Linked DNA regions of Homo sapiens: region 2 is linked to region 1. The links come from fine-mapping of genetic effects on gene expression. A gene starts in region 1. The other region holds a variant in brackets. All regions are shown on one strand. Distances are between the middles of the regions. Region 1 holds the start of HAVCR1 (hepatitis A virus cellular receptor 1). Region 2 overlaps HAVCR2 (hepatitis A virus cellular receptor 2).

Evidence for each region. PIP is the estimated chance that this variant, and not a neighbour inherited with it, causes the effect.
Region 2: its variant is the best candidate, but not a certain one, in a credible set for the expression of HAVCR1 in blood mononuclear cells (TOPMed, PIP 0.58).

Annotation. Positions count from the first base shown.
Region 1 is chr5:157,056,547-157,061,925 of GRCh38, reverse strand. HAVCR1 (hepatitis A virus cellular receptor 1) reads left to right here and starts at 2,810. Exons shown (of 9, transcript NM_001173393.3): 1 at 2,810-3,005; 2 at 3,971-4,028. The coding sequence starts at 3,983.
Region 2 is chr5:157,083,968-157,089,346 of GRCh38, reverse strand. It overlaps HAVCR2 (hepatitis A virus cellular receptor 2), which reads left to right. Exons shown (of 7, transcript NM_032782.5): 6 at 370-406; 7 at 2,053-3,515. The coding sequence ends at 2,245. Among named protein-coding and RNA genes, the nearest start is that of HAVCR2, 22 kb to the left of the region's middle. The variant C/G (reference allele first, on the strand shown) is at 3,176.

The sequences.
Region 1 (5,379 bases):
CAGTTATGTAACATCTCAGAGCCTTGGCTCCACATCCCTGTCCTGGCTCTCTCTGGCTCATCATTTCCTCCAGTTGAAACACCCTCCACCCATTCTTCTCACATGTCACTTTTTAAGAAATTCTTCCCACCCCCCACATTCCGTCATCAAAATGAATGGTCTTTCCCTATGGGTTTGTGTTTCCATTTGTTTATCTATTCAATTAATAACTTTTTTTTTTTTGAGAAGTCTCACTCTGTGGCCCAGGCCAGAGTGCAGTGGCATGATCTCCGCTCAGGGTAAATTCTGCCTCCCGGGTTCAGGCGATTCTCTTGCCTCAGCCTCCTGAGTAGCTGGGATTACAGGCACCCGCCACCACGCCTGGCTAATTTTTGCATTTTTGGTAGAGTTGGGTTTCACCATGTTGGCCAGGCTGGTTTGGAACCCCTGACCTCAAGTGATCCTCCCACCTCGGCCTCCTTTGGATTACAGGTGTGAGCAACCATGCCTGGCTTCAACACTTAAATTGCCTTAAAGGAGTTTATGGTCTGGAGTTGGGTGCCACACAACACAGTCACTATGTGTGACAATTTAAATTTTATTTTTTTGTTTTTAATTAATTTATTTTTTTGAAAGCTCTGTCATCTAAGGCTTGAGTGCAGTGGTGCCATCTCAACTCCCCGAAGACTGTCTCCTGGGCTCAAGCAATCTGAAATTTTAATTAAAATGAAATTAAATAAAAATTTTTAGGCCAGGCATGGCGGCTCACACCTGTAATTCCAGCACTTTTGGAAGTTGAGATGAGCGTATCACTTGAGGCCAGGAGTTCCAGCCCAGCCTGGCCAACATGGTGAAACTCCACCTCTGCTAAAAATACAAAAATTAGCCAGGCATGGTGGCGCGTGTCTGTAGTCCCAGCTACTCAGGAGACTGTGGCAAGAGAATCACTTAAACCCAGGAGATGGAGGTTGCACTGAGCTGAGATTGTGACACTGCACTCCAGCCTGGGTGACAGAGTCAGGCTCTGTCTTGGAAAAAAAAAAAATTAAAAATGCCTTGGTTGCCTTAGCCACATTTCAAGTGCTCAATAGTCATATGTGGCTAGTGGCTGCTGTAGTGCACGACACTCACACAGAATAACTCTGTAACCAATATTCTACTGGAGACAGAATCGATCCTATGGAATTCAAATTCAAATCCTATGGAATTGTACAGTTATGTAACATCTCAGAGCACTGGCTCCACATCCCTGTCTTGGCTCTCTGTGGCTCATCAGTTCCAGAATAACTCCGTTACCAGAATAACTCCATTACTAAAATTCTACCGGGCAGCACTCTATAGGAGGGAATAGAGACAGACACCACATATATTGCACACACAGATAAAATGGATTAAGGAAAACAAGATAATAATAGTGAGAGGGACTGGTTGGCTACTTTAGATTGAAGGACCTGTGAAAAATGTCCAGGGAGGTCATATTTAAGCCGGGATAAAAATGAAAAGGAAAAAAGTGAAAATGGTGGGGCTGGGGAGCTAGATGGAGAACACAGCCACGGAAAAGGCCTTAGGGTTGAGGCAAGTTGGAAAGAAAGCTCTAGTAGCTGGGGCTGAGTCAGCAGGGGAGAGAGTGGTAGAAGAAATCTATGGGGTAGGTCAGGGCCAGACCACCAGGGCTTCAGTAATTTGAGTAAAGATTTAGGAATTATTATTATTATTATTATTATTATTTTTCTGAGAGAGTTATGAGAGGGTTATAAGTGGGGGAATGATGTAGTCTGATTATATATTTACCTTTACCTCACTTATCCTGATTTCATTAGTTGCTTACTTACCCATGTCCCTGCCCGATTGCACAAGTCTGGATTTTTGACGTCCCTAGTATATTGAGTCATGTCCCATCAGCTCAATATGTTAGTAATAACTGGTTGAATTGAATTAGCTTTTTTTTTTCAATCTTTTTTTCCTTAAGAAACAGGGTCTTGCTCTGTCACCCCGGCTGGTGTGCAGTGGCACAATCATAGCCTCCAACTGCTGGGCTCAAGCAACCCTCCTGCCTCAGCCTCCTGAGTAGCTGGGACTACGGTCAGGTACACAAGGCCTGACTATATTTTTTGTTCGTTTTTTTTGCAGAGAGGGAGTCTTGCTATGTTGCCCAGGTTGGTCTCAAACTCCTTACCTCAGGTGATCCACTTGCCTTGGCCTCCCAAAGTGTTGGGATTACAGGCGTGAGCCACTGTGCCTGGCAAGAAATGAATTTTTATTTTTATTTTTGAGATGGAGTTTTGTTCTTGTTGTCCAGGCTAGAGTGCAATGGCTTGATCTCGGCTCACTGCAACCTCCACCTTCCAGGTTCAAGCAATTCTTCTACCTCAGCCTCCTAAGTAGCTGGGATTACAGGCGCCCGCCACCACCCCCAGCTAATTTTTGTATTTTTAGTAGAGTCGGGGTTTCACCGTGTTAGCCAGGCTGGTCTTGAACTCCCGACCTCAGGTGACTGGCCTACTCGGCCTCCCAAAGTGCTGGGGTTACAGGCACGAGCCACCATGCCCGGTCAAGAAATGAATTTTTAAACGCTGCCATACAAAACACTATGCTGAGATCATCCACTTCCCCATGAACCCTGTCATGAGCTGCAAGATACAGACCACCACTGCCTCCTTGGAAGTTACTGAATTCTTAGACCAGAAGAGGAGTTAATGAAGTACTAGGCAAGCTTACTCATGTTTGTATGGTTTAATGATTAACAGCAGAAGTCAACAGCCCGATTTAACGCATGTGGGTGCTTGACACAGAGCCTGCTATATAGTATTCTCCAAAAACCTCAGCTAGTGCTATTACTGCATATGATGTAGGTTTAGTTTTCCAAGTTCTTCCGTGGCCCTTTTTGCTTATTATATCAATCCTTGGTGGGAGATAGAGGAAGCATTTTTAGTGCTATTTTACAACTGAGGAAATAGAGGTTTGAAGAGAACTCAGGAACTCTCAGGGTTACCCAGCATTGTGAGTGACAGAGCCTGGATCTGAACGTAAGTCTGCTCCAGACTTCTGTTTCCTGAAGCATTCTCTTGAAGTCCCTTGGTAAGGAGGTGTAGTCTGAAGCATGTTGTACAGGAGCATGAAAGGTTAGGCACAGTGATTCACATTCACTCTCAATTTCTCTTGCTAATGGCAAACTTGGCAATATGACTGTTAAGGCTAGGGATAAGTCGTTGTGGCCACTGAGTAGGAAAAGCTCCACGTCCACCAGAGGCCCAGTTTACTCTGAAAAGCAAGTGCATCTCTGCCACTGGAAGGCTGGCATTTGCTCTCGTGCTGCCATTGAGCCACGCTGGTTCTCTGCTTCCAGTTTCCTTTTCTTTTCTTTTTTTTTGTTTTGTTTTTTGAGACGGAGTCTTGCTCTGTCGCCCAGGCTGGAGTGCAGTGGCGCGATCTCGGCTCACCGCAAGCTCCGCCTCCCGCGGGTTCACGCCATTCTCCTGCCTCAGCCTCCCGAGTAGCTGGGACTACAGGCGCCAGTGACCACGCCCGGCTAATTTTTTGTATTTTTAGTAGAGACGGGGTTTCACCCTTTTAGCCAGGATGGTCTCGATCTCCTGACTTCGTGATCTGCCCGCCTTGGCCTCCCAAAGTGCTAGGATTACAGGTTTGAGCCACCGCGCCCGGCCCTGTTTCCTTTTTGTTTGTTCCCCTGATACCCTGTATCAGGACCAGGAGTCAGTTTGGCGGTTATGTGTGGGGAAGAAGCTGGGAAGTCAGGGGCTGTTTCTGTGGACAGCTTTCCCTGTCCTTTGGAAGGCACAGAGCTCTCAGCTGCAGGGAACTAACAGAGCTCTGAAGCCGTTATATGTGGTCTTCTCTCATTTCCAGCAGAGCAGGCTCATATGAATCAACCAACTGGGTGAAAAGATAAGTTGCAATCTGAGATTTAAGACTTGATCAGATACCATCTGGTGGAGGGTACCAACCAGCCTGTCTGCTCATTTTCCTTCAGGCTGATCCCATAATGCATCCTCAAGTGGTCATCTTAAGCCTCATCCTACATCTGGCAGGTAAGTGAGTAGGTGCCCTGGGCGGGAAGAAGGGAGTAGAGGGGGGTTAGAAGCCAGAGAATGGGGTAGGGGAAGGGGAGGGGATGGTGGTGGTGGATTAATGTAGATGTTCTTTGGGTACCGTTGTATGGCTATGAGTTAACTAGTGAGCAGGACCAGAATAAAGTTTTAGGCCAAAGAAATTGCTTAACTGCTGTGAATTACAACATTCATGGCTAAATGAACAAGGCAAGATGCAGCACAGTGTGTCACAGGCTGCCCTTTGTGTTTAAACAAAAAGGGTGTGGTTAGATGTATATGCATAGACACATGTATATAGGAAATAGTGACAGTGGGTAATGTGGGATGGGGGCAGAGGGTGGGAGGTGGAGGGAGAGTTAATCCTTATTGTATTTTTTTGTGCCTTCCGATTTTTTTCAGCCACATTCAATTCTCTTTCTTTCTTTCTTTCTTTCTTTCTTTCTTTCTTTCTTTCTTTCTTTCTTTCTTTCTTTCTTTCTTTCTTTCTTTCCTCTCTCTCTCTCTCTCTCTCTCTTCATGAGGTCTCACTCTGGAGTGCAGTAGGGCAATCTTTTTTTTTTTGAGACAGAGTCTCACTCTGTCGCCCAGGCTAGAGTTCAGTGGCGTGATCTCGGCTCACTGCAGCCTCCGCCTCCTGGGTTCAAGCAATTCTCTGCCTCAGTCTCCCAAGTAGCTGGGATTACAGGTACCTGCCACCACTACCAGCTAATTTTTTTGTATTTTTAGTAGAGACAAGGTTTCCCCATCTTGGCCAAGCTGATCTTGAACTCCTGACCTTGTGATCCACCTGCCTCGGCCTCCCAAAGTGCTGGAATTATAGGCGTGAGTCACCGCGCCTGGCCTAGTTGGGCAATCTTGATTCACTGCAACCTCGACCTCCTGGGCTCAAGTGATTCTCCCACCTCAGTCTCCCAAAGTGCTGGGATTATAGGCGTTAGCCACCACATCTGGCCTAAGTATTTTATTTTGAAATAAACACTTTAATTCAAAACATTCTATGAGATAAGGAAAGAGTAAAATAGACATATCCTAATTTTTAAACACAAATTTCTGGAGTGATATATGCCTTTGGGATTATGGGGGAAAAATAATCTCTCATTATATACTTCTATAACCAAATTGTAATAGCATGCATTATATGTGTAATCCAAAAAAATGATACTAGTATTAGGCAAAATTAAACAAGAATTTCTTGGTGGCCGGGCGTGGTGGCTCACACCTGTAATCCCAGCACTTTGGGAGGCCAAGGCGGGCAGATCACGAGGTCAGGAAATCGAGACCATCCTGGCTAACATGGTGAAACCCCGTCTCTACTAAAAATACAAAAAAA
Region 2 (5,379 bases), 27 kb before region 1:
CAGGCTGGTCTTGGGTCTGGGGTACTGTTTTCTTTTATTTCTTTGGTCTCCCACAGGAGAGCGTGAGCTTCGTGAAATTAGGGCTCACAATTCACTTTTATGTTCCTGTGTTCCTTGTGCCAGGCAAACTGCCAGACACATAGTAGAGGTCTCATAATATTTGTTAAATAAGAAAAATGCATCTTTATTATTATTTTCTAACACAGTCCATATAACTATCTAAGGCACACGTTGAGAGTTTCATTTAACTCAATCTGAGATGAGACCAGATTTCCCTAAACTATGCGTGCTTCCAGTGAACCTATTTGATTTCTTGTCTCATTTATTTTATGAATGCATTTTTATTGGCTTTTGTTTCCCCCTTACTAGGGTATTCTCATAGCAAAGAGAAGATACAGAATTTAAGGTAAGAATAATGGAATGGGGTTGGGAAAAGGTGAGAATCTTGGAAGTCCCTACTCTAACATGTCTGATCTTTTCTCTGAGAAATCCTGTCCTGGGGCTTTGAGATCTGAGTTTATACTTCCTTCTTTCTCTAGGTCTAGTTATGAAGTGAAAATGTAACATGCTACTGTGTGTACTTCCTGACACCTCTAGCTTCTTTAGTTCTAAAGTTAAGGTATAGAATTTATCACCCTAATAATACAACATGCTTATTCATCTCGATATTAATGGTTTTTCCACTGAACTGAAACATCAACGGATTGAGCTCCTATTATATCCAGGGTCTGGGCTGCACTTAGGCGTTACAGAAGTGAGCAAGAAACCCAGTATCTGTTCTCAGCATTTCTGTAAACAGCCCAGGCATTTTCAACTTTAGTTTCCTATTAGAATCACCCAGGCACTGAAGTGTACTAATGCAGGGCCAACCCCAGAGCAACTGAATCAGAATCTCTGGGGATGAAGCCTAAGCATAGAAATTGTTCTAAAAGCTCTCCAGGTGATTCTAGTGAACAGTCAGGGCTGAGAACTGCTAGTCTGTTATAGACTCCTGTCTTGACCTTCGTTCCTGATTATACACACCCACACATCCATTTCAAATAGGTATGGCTTACATAACTTACTAGATTTTAGACTTTTAGTGATGTTTGGCACATGAATGGAATACAATATATTTGGATTACAAAAATGATTCTGGGCTAGGTGCTGTGGCTTACGCCTATAAGCCCAGCACTTTGGGAGGCTGAGGTGGGAGGATCACATGAGCCCAGGAGTTCAAGACCAGCCTGGGCAACATGATGAGACCTCTTCTCTACAAAAAAATGGAAACATTAGGTGGAAGGATTGCTGGAGCACAGGAGATGAAGGCTGCAATGAGCCATGATTGTGCCACTGCATTCCCACCTGGGTGACAGAGAAAGACCCAGCATCAAACAAAACAAAACAAAAACCTCTGTCCATTGAATGCTATCTAAAGCATTAATAATTTTTTTTTTTTTTTTTTGAGACGGAGTCTGGCTCTGTCACCCAGGCTGGAGTGCAGTGGCACAACCTCGGCTCACTATAACCTCTGCTTCTCGGGTTCAAGCGATTCTCTGCATTAGCCTCCCAAGTAGCTGGGATTACAGGTGCATGCCACCACGCTGGCTAATTTTTTGTATGTTTAGTAGAGACGGGGTTTCACTATGTTGGCCAGGCTGGTCTCGAACTCCTGACCTCGTGATCTGCCAGGCTCAGCCTCCCAAAGTGCTGGGATTACAGGCGTGAGCCACGGCGCCCGGCCCATTTTTTGAAAATCTAAATGTGTACATAATTGCAGACATCTTGATACTTCACCTAAACTTCAGCCTGCACCTCCGAGAAATAAAAATATTCTCTTAGCTATCACAATGCTGTTGTTATACCTAAGAAAATTAAAATTAATGGACATTTTCTCAATTGTTTCCCCATAGTATTTTATTGCTATTTCTTGGCTTTTCCACTTGTTCAGCATCTGATCAAAGATCATGCACTATATTTAGTTGCTGTCTCTTTGGGAAAGCCTATTCTCTTAACTCTATTCCGTGTTACCTGGGAAATGCTTAACTCAACCGCAACACTTTATTTCCACAGCCTCATCTCTTTGGCCAACCTCCCTCCCTCAGGATTGGCAAATGCAGTAGCAGAGGGAATTCGCTCAGAAGAAAACATCTATACCATTGAAGAGAACGTATATGAAGTGGAGGAGCCCAATGAGTATTATTGCTATGTCAGCAGCAGGCAGCAACCCTCACAACCTTTGGGTTGTCGCTTTGCAATGCCATAGATCCAACCACCTTATTTTTGAGCTTGGTGTTTTGTCTTTTTCAGAAACTATGAGCTGTGTCACCTGACTGGTTTTGGAGGTTCTGTCCACTGCTATGGAGCAGAGTTTTCCCATTTTCAGAAGATAATGACTCACATGGGAATTGAACTGGGACCTGCACTGAACTTAAACAGGCATGTCATTGCCTCTGTATTTAAGCCAACAGAGTTACCCAACCCAGAGACTGTTAATCATGGATGTTAGAGCTCAAACGGGCTTTTATATACACTAGGAATTCTTGACGTGGGGTCTCTGGAGCTCCAGGAAATTCGGGCACATCATATGTCCATGAAACTTCAGATAAACTAGGGAAAACTGGGTGCTGAGGTGAAAGCATAACTTTTTTGGCACAGAAAGTCTAAAGGGGCCACTGATTTTCAAAGAGATCTGTGATCCCTTTTTGTTTTTTGTTTTTGAGATGGAGTCTTGCTCTGTTGCCCAGGCTGGAGTGCAATGGCACAATCTCGGCTCACTGCAAGCTCCGCCTCCTGGGTTCAAGCGATTCTCCTGCCTCAGCCTCCTGAGTGGCTGGGATTACAGGCATGCACCACCATGCCCAGCTAATTTGTTGTATTTTTAGTAGAGACAGGGTTTCACCATGTTGGCCAGTGTGGTCTCAAACTCCTGACCTCATGATTTGCCTGCCTCGGCCTCCCAAAGCACTGGGATTACAGGCGTGAGCCACCACATCCAGCCAGTGATCCTTAAAAGATTAAGAGATGACTGGACCAGGTCTACCTTGATCTTGAAGATTCCCTTGGAATGTTGAGATTTAGGCTTATTTGAGCACTGCCTGCCCAACTGTCAGTGCCAGTGCATAGCCCTTCTTTTGTCTCCCTTATGAAGACTGCCCTGCAGGGCTGAGATGTGGCAGGAGCTCCCAGGGAAAAA[C/G]GAAGTGCATTTGATTGGTGTGTATTGGCCAAGTTTTGCTTGTTGTGTGCTTGAAAGAAAATATCTCTGACCAACTTCTGTATTCGTGGACCAAACTGAAGCTATATTTTTCACAGAAGAAGAAGCAGTGACGGGGACACAAATTCTGTTGCCTGGTGGAAAGAAGGCAAAGGCCTTCAGCAATCTATATTACCAGCGCTGGATCCTTTGACAGAGAGTGGTCCCTAAACTTAAATTTCAAGACGGTATAGGCTTGATCTGTCTTGCTTATTGTTGCCCCCTGCGCCTAGCACAATTCTGACACACAATTGGAACTTACTAAAAATTTTTTTTTACTGTTTTTTGTTTGTTTGTTTGTTTTTTGAGATAGAATCTCGCTCTGTCTGAGTTCATTGTAGATTCTGGATATTAGCCCTTTGTCAGATGAGTAGGTTGCGAAAATTTTCTCCCATTTTATAGGTTGCCTGTTCACTCTGATGGTAGTTTCTTTTGCTGTGCAGAAGCTCTTTAGTTTAATTAGATCCCATTTGTCAATTTTGGCTTTTGTGGCCATTGCTTTTGGTGTTTTAGACATGAAGTCCTTGCCCATGCCTATGTCCTGAATGGTAATGTCTAGGTTTTCTTCTAGGGTTTTTAGGGTTTTAGGTCTAACGTTTAAGTCTTTAATCCATCTTGAATTAATTTTTGTATAAGGTGTAAGGAAGGGATCCAGTTTCAGCTTTCTACATATGGCTAGCCAGTTTTCCCAGCACCATTTATTAAATAGGGAATCCTTTCCCCATTGCTTGTTTTTCTCAGGTTTGTCAAAGATCAGATAGTTGTAGATATGCGGCATTATTTCTGAGGGCTCTGTTCTGTTCCATTGATCTATATCTCTGTTTTGGTACCAGTACCATGCTGTTTTGATTACTGTAGACTTGTAGTATAGTTTGAAGTCAGGTAGCGTGATGCCTCCAGCTTTGTTCTTTTGGCTTAGGATTGACTTGGTGATGCGGGCTCTTTTTTGGTTCCATATGAACTTTAAAGTAGTTTTTTCCAATTCTGTGAAGAAAGTCATTGGTAGCTTGATGGGGATGGCATTGAATCTATAAATTACCTTGGGCAGTATGGCCATTTTCACCATATTGATTCTTCCTACCCATGAGCATGGAATGTTCTTCCATTTGTTTGTATCCTCTTTTATTTCATTGAGCAGTGGTTTGTAGTTCTCCTTGAAGAGGTCCTTTACGTCCCTTGTAAGTTGGATTCCTAGGTATTTTATTCTCTTTGAAGCAATTGTGAATGGGAGTTCACTCATGATTTGGCTCTGTTTGAACTCAAACAAATTTACAAGAAAAAAACAAACAACCCCATCAAAAAGTAGGCAAAGGATATGAACAGACACTTCTCAAAAGAGGACATTTATGCAGCCAAAAGACACATTAGAAAATGCTCATCATCACTGGCCATCAGAGAAATGCAAATCAAAACCACAATGAGATACCATCTCACACCAGTTAGAATGGCAATCATTAAAAAGTCAGGAAACAACAGGTGCTGGAGAGGATGTGGAGAAATAGGAACACTTTTACACTGTTGGTGGGACTGTAAAGTAGTTCAACCTTTGTGGAAGTCAGTGTGGCAATTCCTCAGGGATCTAGAACTAGAAATACCATTTGACCCCACCATCCCATTACTGGGTATATACCCAAAGGACTATAAATCATGCTGCTATAAAGGCACATGCACACGTATGTTTATTGTGGCACTATTCACAATAGCAAAGACTTGGAACCAACCCAAATGTCTGACAATGATAGACCGGATTAAGAAAATGTGGCACATATACACCATGGAATACTATGCAGCCATAAGAAATGATGAGTTCATGTCCTTTGTAGGGACATGGATGAAATTGGAAATCATCATTCTCAGTAAACTATTGCAAGGACAAAAACCCAAACACCGCATGTTCTCACTCATAGATGGGAATTGAACAATGAGAACACATGGACATAGGAAGGGGAACATCATACTCTGGGGACTGTTGTGGGGTGGGGGAAGGGGGGAGGGATAGCATTAGGAGATATACCTAATGCTAAATGACGAGTTAATGGGTGCAGCACACCAGCATGGCACATGTATACATATGTAACTAACAGGCACACTGTGCACATGTACCCTAAAACTTAAAGTATAATAATAATAATAATAATAATAATAAT